Homo sapiens: one gene and its partner. The protein of the gene in region 1 purifies or fractionates together with the protein of each later gene. This does not show direct contact. Each region holds a gene or a part of one and is shown on either strand. Other genes may lie near its edges.

What was found.
Region 2: the proteins of CDKL2 (region 1) and NOC2L purify together in Homo sapiens (affinity purification with mass spectrometry; one large-scale study listed by BioGRID and IntAct). This does not show direct contact.

What each region holds. Positions count from the first base shown.
Region 1 is NC_000004.12:75,596,029-75,599,528, forward strand, and holds part of CDKL2 (cyclin-dependent kinase-like 2), read right to left. Parts: intron 2,185-3,500; coding exon 2,049-2,184; intron 1,209-2,048; coding exon 907-1,208; intron 313-906; coding exon 219-312; coding exon of another isoform or gene 215-218; exon of another isoform or gene 139-214; intron 1-138.
Region 2 is NC_000001.11:949,257-952,756, forward strand, and holds part of NOC2L (nucleolar complex protein 2 homolog), read right to left. Parts: intron 3,345-3,500; coding exon 3,156-3,344; intron 2,884-3,155; coding exon 2,744-2,883; intron 1,983-2,743; coding exon 1,871-1,982; intron 1-1,870.

The sequences.
Region 1 (3,500 bases):
GAAGAAAGGAAGGAAGGAGTTTTTAGACTCATAAAACTTAAACTTTCAGAATTTCACGTTTATGACTATGATGGGTTGGGATAATATATGCACAATTAAGGTTTCACTTTATGTGTATCCAAACAAAATTCTCAATACTTCACTATCATATTTAATTTTAATAAAAGTCTAGAGCTGACTGGTGTTTGCTCTTCTACTACTGAGAACTGCTTACTTACTAATGTGGTCACATTAATGTTATAAATGCCTGATGGGGAATGTCTGTTCGGTTTAACAAATGGAATAGAACACTTCTTAGTTTTCTCATCCACTCTGTAACGACAAAAAAAAATGTTTTTAAGTTAGAACCAGCAATAATTATTTTTTCAAGCACAAAACTAAATGACACAGCACCAACTAACAAGCAGTTTAACCAGAGTGTAATGTCTATTCTCAAATATACAATGCACATAAATCTGGTGAAACATTCTATTCTTTAACACTACCCTCATGCCTCCCAGCAGCCCCCAACTCCTACCAAATACATTACCCTCCTTTCAGCAAAATTCCCAAATGGAGCTTCCTTATACTACTATAGGCTCACAGTCACACCATGCAGCAGCAGCCACTCAAAAATTATCTCTTTTAGTATGACAACCTGCTTTCACATTATTAGACTATATAGCTGTAGATTCTCTTCACCTTAAGCAATAAAACCCTACTTTCTCAGGACTTTGGTGAATTGTTTTGATCAAATGCTAATAATCTTCATCACACAGCCAAAAAGTCTTTTGAAACAGCTACCTGACAAGAATGAATAGCATCCAGAATTCTGAGAATAAAAACAATGTGGATGAATTGACAAACCCTTGCAATTTGCAAATATGTCCTTAAACACTTTTTTGATCTTATTTTACTAATTCATACCTGTAACCCTGAATTGGTATAGTCTCAGTCCCCATTCCAGAATTAATGCTGGGAGCAACTGCAGAAAGATTGTGTGTAAGTGGGGGAATTGCCACGCTTGGATTCCTTGTGTGGTCCACGCTGACATTGCTGCAGTCTTTGAGGCTTGTTGAAGGCACTATTTTGTTGTGGCTTGTCCTACTGTCATGGAGACAGCTGGCATTTGAAGCTCTATTGCCTTTTTCAGCTTTTTCTCCATCAATTTTTGAGCCTTTTATTTTAAATAGTTTATAATCCTTAATTTTGGGATCAGCATTGGTATCCTGATCATTAACAAAAATATTAATAAGGTTAATGATCTGAAGAGAATGAAAATTTACCTCTTCTTATAAAGTACTTGTCAACTAGAGCAGAATATCATAAGTATCACCTTTTTGAAACTGTTTTCTTTATTCTTCCTAGGGGATTAAAATTAAAGCCAGATTCTTATTCAGATAGTTATTGGGAAAATACAAAAAGAATGGAAATGCAATTCACACAGCTCACTCAGACACACACACACACACATACACACACATCAGTGGAAAAACTCATGGAAGAGGAATCAAGAATTCCACTTTTGTTCTTACATATTCAGAGTCATGGAACACAAAACTGATAACTCTTTCTTCTTTTGGTGTACTTGATATAAGTGGATTGGTGGTGGATTTGAATTACCTTATCAAGAACAGATCCTGGGTAGTTCACCAGGAAAAGCAAACCTAAGTTAAGTATCCAAATCTCACTTTTCAAATTTTTACTTCATATAAATTTCTACAGACAATATTTTTCACTCATATCCTTTAAGAAAGATAAGTGGGGTGAGGGTTGTTTGTTCCATGTGTCTGTGTGTATATGTGTTCATGAAAACACATATCTAGATGTTCTTGGATGAATGTGATTTAAGCACTGTTGCACAGTCTGGCACATAACAGGTACTCAAAACATGATATGTTAAGTTTTCTAAACAGGTAATATCTACTGAGAAGATACATTTTTACAACTAAACTAAAAGTTAACAATTTGCTCACTGCTCAGAAAACTTTTTTCAAAATCATATTTTTTCTCAAAAAATTTAAAAAAATAAGTATATTAAATCTAAAATGTGAAACATGAACATTTACCTGTACCACAAGTGTTTTTCTTTCTTCAACTAAGGAATCATCTTTTTCTTTTTCCTTCTTTCTGTTTTGGGATTTTTTAGATAAAGAAACATTTCTGGCATCTTTCTGTACTTTTAACTGTAGTTCTTGGGAAAACCTACATAAAAATATAATAAAATAAAATTGTAAGACATGGATAAACCTACAAAAAAATTGACTTTCAAGATATTTATTTTTTAAAAATTGAATGTTAAACTAGTCTATGTTATTAAAAATGAGAAAAATCCTGGCCTAGATCAGCAGTTTGGAAAGGGTGGTGTGTAGATCTTTGGGGATCCCTAAGAACATTCAGAAGGTTCACAAAGTCAATGCTATTATTTTAACATAAAGATGTTTGTCTTTCTCACCAGGTTAACATGAAAGCAGTGGTGGATAAAACTGCTGACACCTTACCAAGAAGAAAAGCAGCAAAACCAAAATGTACTAGCAGTCATTACTTTCTTGATAACCACACATTCTCAGTTGCTTTTTTTTTTTAAAAAAAAAAAAGGCAGTCTTGCTTAAGAATGTCTCTGATGAATCAGCAAAAAGGTATTGACTTCATTAAAGCCAAACTCTTAAACGCATCCTTTTTTTATGGTCTGTGTGACAAAATGAGAATATACGTAAAGCACCTCTGCTACAAACCGAAACACTATGGTTGTCTTAAGAAAAATGCTTGCATAATTATTTGTGATACAAACTAAACTAGATATTTTTACTTGAAAGAAAGACTGACAGAAAAACTATGGTTATTAAGACTTTGGGTCTATGGGAAACATTTTCTTTTAACAAATAAACAAAGTGATCTTGTCACTTCAAGGAAAACAGAAATAATTGTGTTAATGATAAAATTCAAAATTTTATGCAAAAATTACAATTCTGTTAAACTTGTATCCACCACTGTGAGCTTAGCAGCTTCCCAAAACTCACAAAACTTTTATGAGATAGAATGTAATTTTTGATGCTGTACAAGAAATATATCAATATTTTTAAGATCTGCTTAACTCAGCAAACTAATATTTTCCAAATGACTAAAGCATGATATTACAAAAGCATGCATGGGTAAAAGATCCATTAAAAAGGCAAGACAGACAAATGGATTTTAATTTAACAAAGGAAGAAAGACTCAATGATATGGTTTCACATTCCACAATGCAACCAGCCTTTAAGAAACTACCACTGGGCCAGGAACGGTGGCTCATGCCTGTAATCCCAGCACTTTAGGAGGCCCAGGTGGGCAGATCACCTGAGGTCAGGAGTTCAAGACCAGCCTGACCAACACAGAGAAACCCCATCTCTACTAAAAATATAAAATTAGCCAGTTGTGGTGGCACATGCCTGTAATCCCAGCTACTCGGGAGGCTGAGGCAAGAGAATCGCTTGAACCCAGGAGGTAGAGGTTGCAGTGAGCCAAGATTGCACCACTGCACT
Region 2 (3,500 bases), on another chromosome or scaffold:
TACATGCTGGGGCACCAGAGGACAGAAGCAGATTATGGGGGGCCCAAGGGTGGAGGCCCCAGCAAGACACCCCACTCAGCAGGGGTGGCTGCCAGACAGCTGAGCTCAGGTCCAGATGGGAAAACGCCCTGGTACTGATGAACCTCTGGGAGGACACTGCCCTTCTCTAGCCTGGGCCAAAAGTATGGGCAGGCGACTGGCTTCCTGTCCAGGCACCGGGGAAGGGCAGGCACGGCCTACAGCTGAGGGCTTTGTTTTAGCTTTTAGGGTTTGCTTTTTCCGGAGAGGAGAGGCCTGCATCCCTGCGTGAGAGGGGCCTACAGGGTGCGGCTGCAGTGAACCAGGGCAGTGCACAAGTGAAGAAACAGACACTGCAAGAGAGTAAGAAAGCACGTAGCCAAGGAGATTGGACAAGGGAAACAGACACAAAGCATGCCTGGAGCTGGGCAGCAGAGCTGGAGGCCCACAGACACAGGGGCCAGGCCAAGGGCTGGGCAATCAGAGACCACTGCTGGCTGCCATGGGAGTGAACATGGCTTCCTAAAGATGTTCAGCATCCCTGCCTCAGTGGAAGGGGAATCAGAACGTGCCTGGGGCTTCCATACCTTCTGGACCCAGCAACCTGGGGACCCAGCCCCAAGGACAGCTGTGACACGACTCTGGGCCTTCATGAGGCTGAGAACTCATTAGATAAACAGGGTGGAGATCGTGAATTCCTAAATTTACAGCGGGGTGGGGCCTAACCCACCCACTGAAAGTTGAAACTTCGGACTCCAATCTTTCCCTACCTGAGTGGCATGTGCACGTGCAAAGATGCATACACACAGGTACACACAGGCGCACACATGCACAGGCACACACGTAGACGCACGTACATGCACACAGGTGCACACACGCACAGGCACACACAAGCAGACGTGCATGCATGCACCCAAGTGTACAGGTACACGCACAGGTACACACGCACAGTACACACATGCAGATGCAAATGCATGCACACAAGTGCACACAGACACGTGTGTATGCACATAGGTGCACACAGGTACATAGATGCACGCAGACACACATGCATGCACACAGATGCACACATGCAAAGGTTCATGCATGCACAGGTAGACACATGCAGACGCAAATGCATGCACACAGGTGCACACACGCACAGGTACACACATGCAGACAGGTGCACACAGGTACACACGCATGTGCATGCATACAGGTACACACAGGTACACACTGGTATACAAAGACACATGCACAGGTGCACACACGCAAAGGTACACGCAAAGGTACACACATGCATACACACAGGTGTACACACGCACAGATGCACACACCTGCAGGCACACAGGCATTCATGGATACACGTGCATACACACATACAGATGCACACATGAACTGATATGCACACACACACAGATTTACAGACCCATGCACCCAGATGGTGCACACACACGCATGCATGCACAGACAAACGCACCCACCCAGATGTACACACATCCCCCATACAAATGCATACACATGCACACAACTGTCAGGGCAGGGCACTGTTCAGTGTACAGTTCAGCAATCAGACTTGGGTTTTGGCCCATCTCGCCTCCTGCCTACTCCAGTCTTGGGCAAGCACCTACAGGGTCAGGTCCCGGCATCCTCAAGCACAGCCCTAGCAGCAGCCGCCTTCATCCCCAGTGGTCCCACGTTCCCCAACACTGCCCCCAGCACACGGAGGAGCACTGTCCTCGTGACACCCGTGACAAGGAGGCGGCCAGGGCTCCGGGAAGTCGCCGGACAACTCAGCACAGACGCCCGGAGCAGCAGATGCTCCCTACAGGAGCAGGCAGAGGTGCCACACGCCCACCACAGCCTCACTCACCTCCAGGATGAAAGGCAGCACCGGGATGAAGGCCCCCGAGCTCCCCGAGAGCAGCGTCAGGGCACGGATGCAGTGCATTCGCAGCGGGTAGAAGCGGGCAGTGGGGATGAGCCTGGGGGTGGGAAGGCCGAGTGAGCAGAGGCCCCGGCTCTGGCAGCCCCTGCCCCTCCCCCTGCTGTCTTGGACCTCCTCCCCCACTCACCGACATCAGACCCCTAAAGCAGGACAAGGCACGTCTGAACCCCAGGGACCTGCACCCCTTGCCCAGCTATGGGGCTGCAGGTACCTTACCCAGCTTTCAGCTTTATTTCAACACGGTGGCAGGGGTCATCTGTTCCTGCCTGCTCTCCTCCCTGTTCCCGCCTTTCCTACTTCTTCCCTTGGACTTCCCACCTCCCTTCCCAGCCTTGAGTTTCTAAGGCTCAGCCAGACAGATGCCCCCTCCTGGCCAAAGAGGCCACAGTACTGCTCCCACCTTTTCCTGCTGCAGCCCCTACCGTGCCTGGACCCTCCTAAGCGCTCACACCCAAAATGCAGTTCACTGCATCAGATGTGCTCCACCCAAGAACCCCACGTAATGAACCAAACTCACTGCAAACTGCACACAAGCCCCCAGAACACACGCTGGGTGGCACCCGAGGCGGCTAAACCGCTGTTGGAGGAGCTCATGTCACAGGTGCCCACCAGCCCTAGCTCTCCAGAATCCAGAGCATCTCCCCGTAGCAGGTACAGGGACCCCAGCCCTTCCTCAGGGACGGCCAGGACACAGACTCAGGCCCCAAGGCCCTGAACGCCAGAGGCACCGCCCACACAGTCCCAGCAAATTTGCTTCTCCTGACCCTCCCGCACAACCCTGCCCACCCCACAACTCACTTGATACAGCCAATGATGACTTGGGCAAGGGGGTAGACCAAGGGCTGGAGGGCTTCGCTGGGGCCCGCAGTGCTCAGGACCCGGCACCACAGGAAGAGGCAGTGCACATACTGCCAGTTGTACACAGACTGGTATGTTTCCTGGTCAGAGAGAACCACGTCAGCTACTGGCCAGGCTGACAAGTCAGGCTGATGCACGTTCCTCCTGGGCCGGCACAGGAATCATTTCCTCATCTTGCACACGGGGTCTCAACCCATCCACCCTTCCCCCACCTGCAAGGACCGACTGCACCAGGGTGCTGGGCTGTCTCCAGACAGGGGCTTCGGGGAGGCCCCAGGCCCTGCCTTGGGTCGGGCACCTGGGCTGCCCCACCCCATGCCCAGCATGAGCCTGGAAGGGCCCCACCACACACCTTCTTGCGAGTGGTCATGGCGTTGCGCAGGTGTATGGCGAGCTGGCGGATGTAGAGGAAGGCGTGCTGGTAGGCCACACCCGGCTCCAGGGCCAGCAGCTCCGTCAAGGTCCACTGCATGAAACTGATGAAGGGGAGGGCACCAGGCGAGGTGAACTTGCAGTTCCTCACATACGTGATGTACATTTGCTGCGGAGAGACCCGGGTCAGAGCCACCTGGGATCAGGGCCATGCACCTCCACCGCCCACTCCAGGGCCCCTGTGAACACCTGGGCCTTTCCCTCAGAGCTGGGCCTCGAGGAAGAGCCGTAGCCCCTTGCACAGCCCCCACCCCCAAGTGCCCAC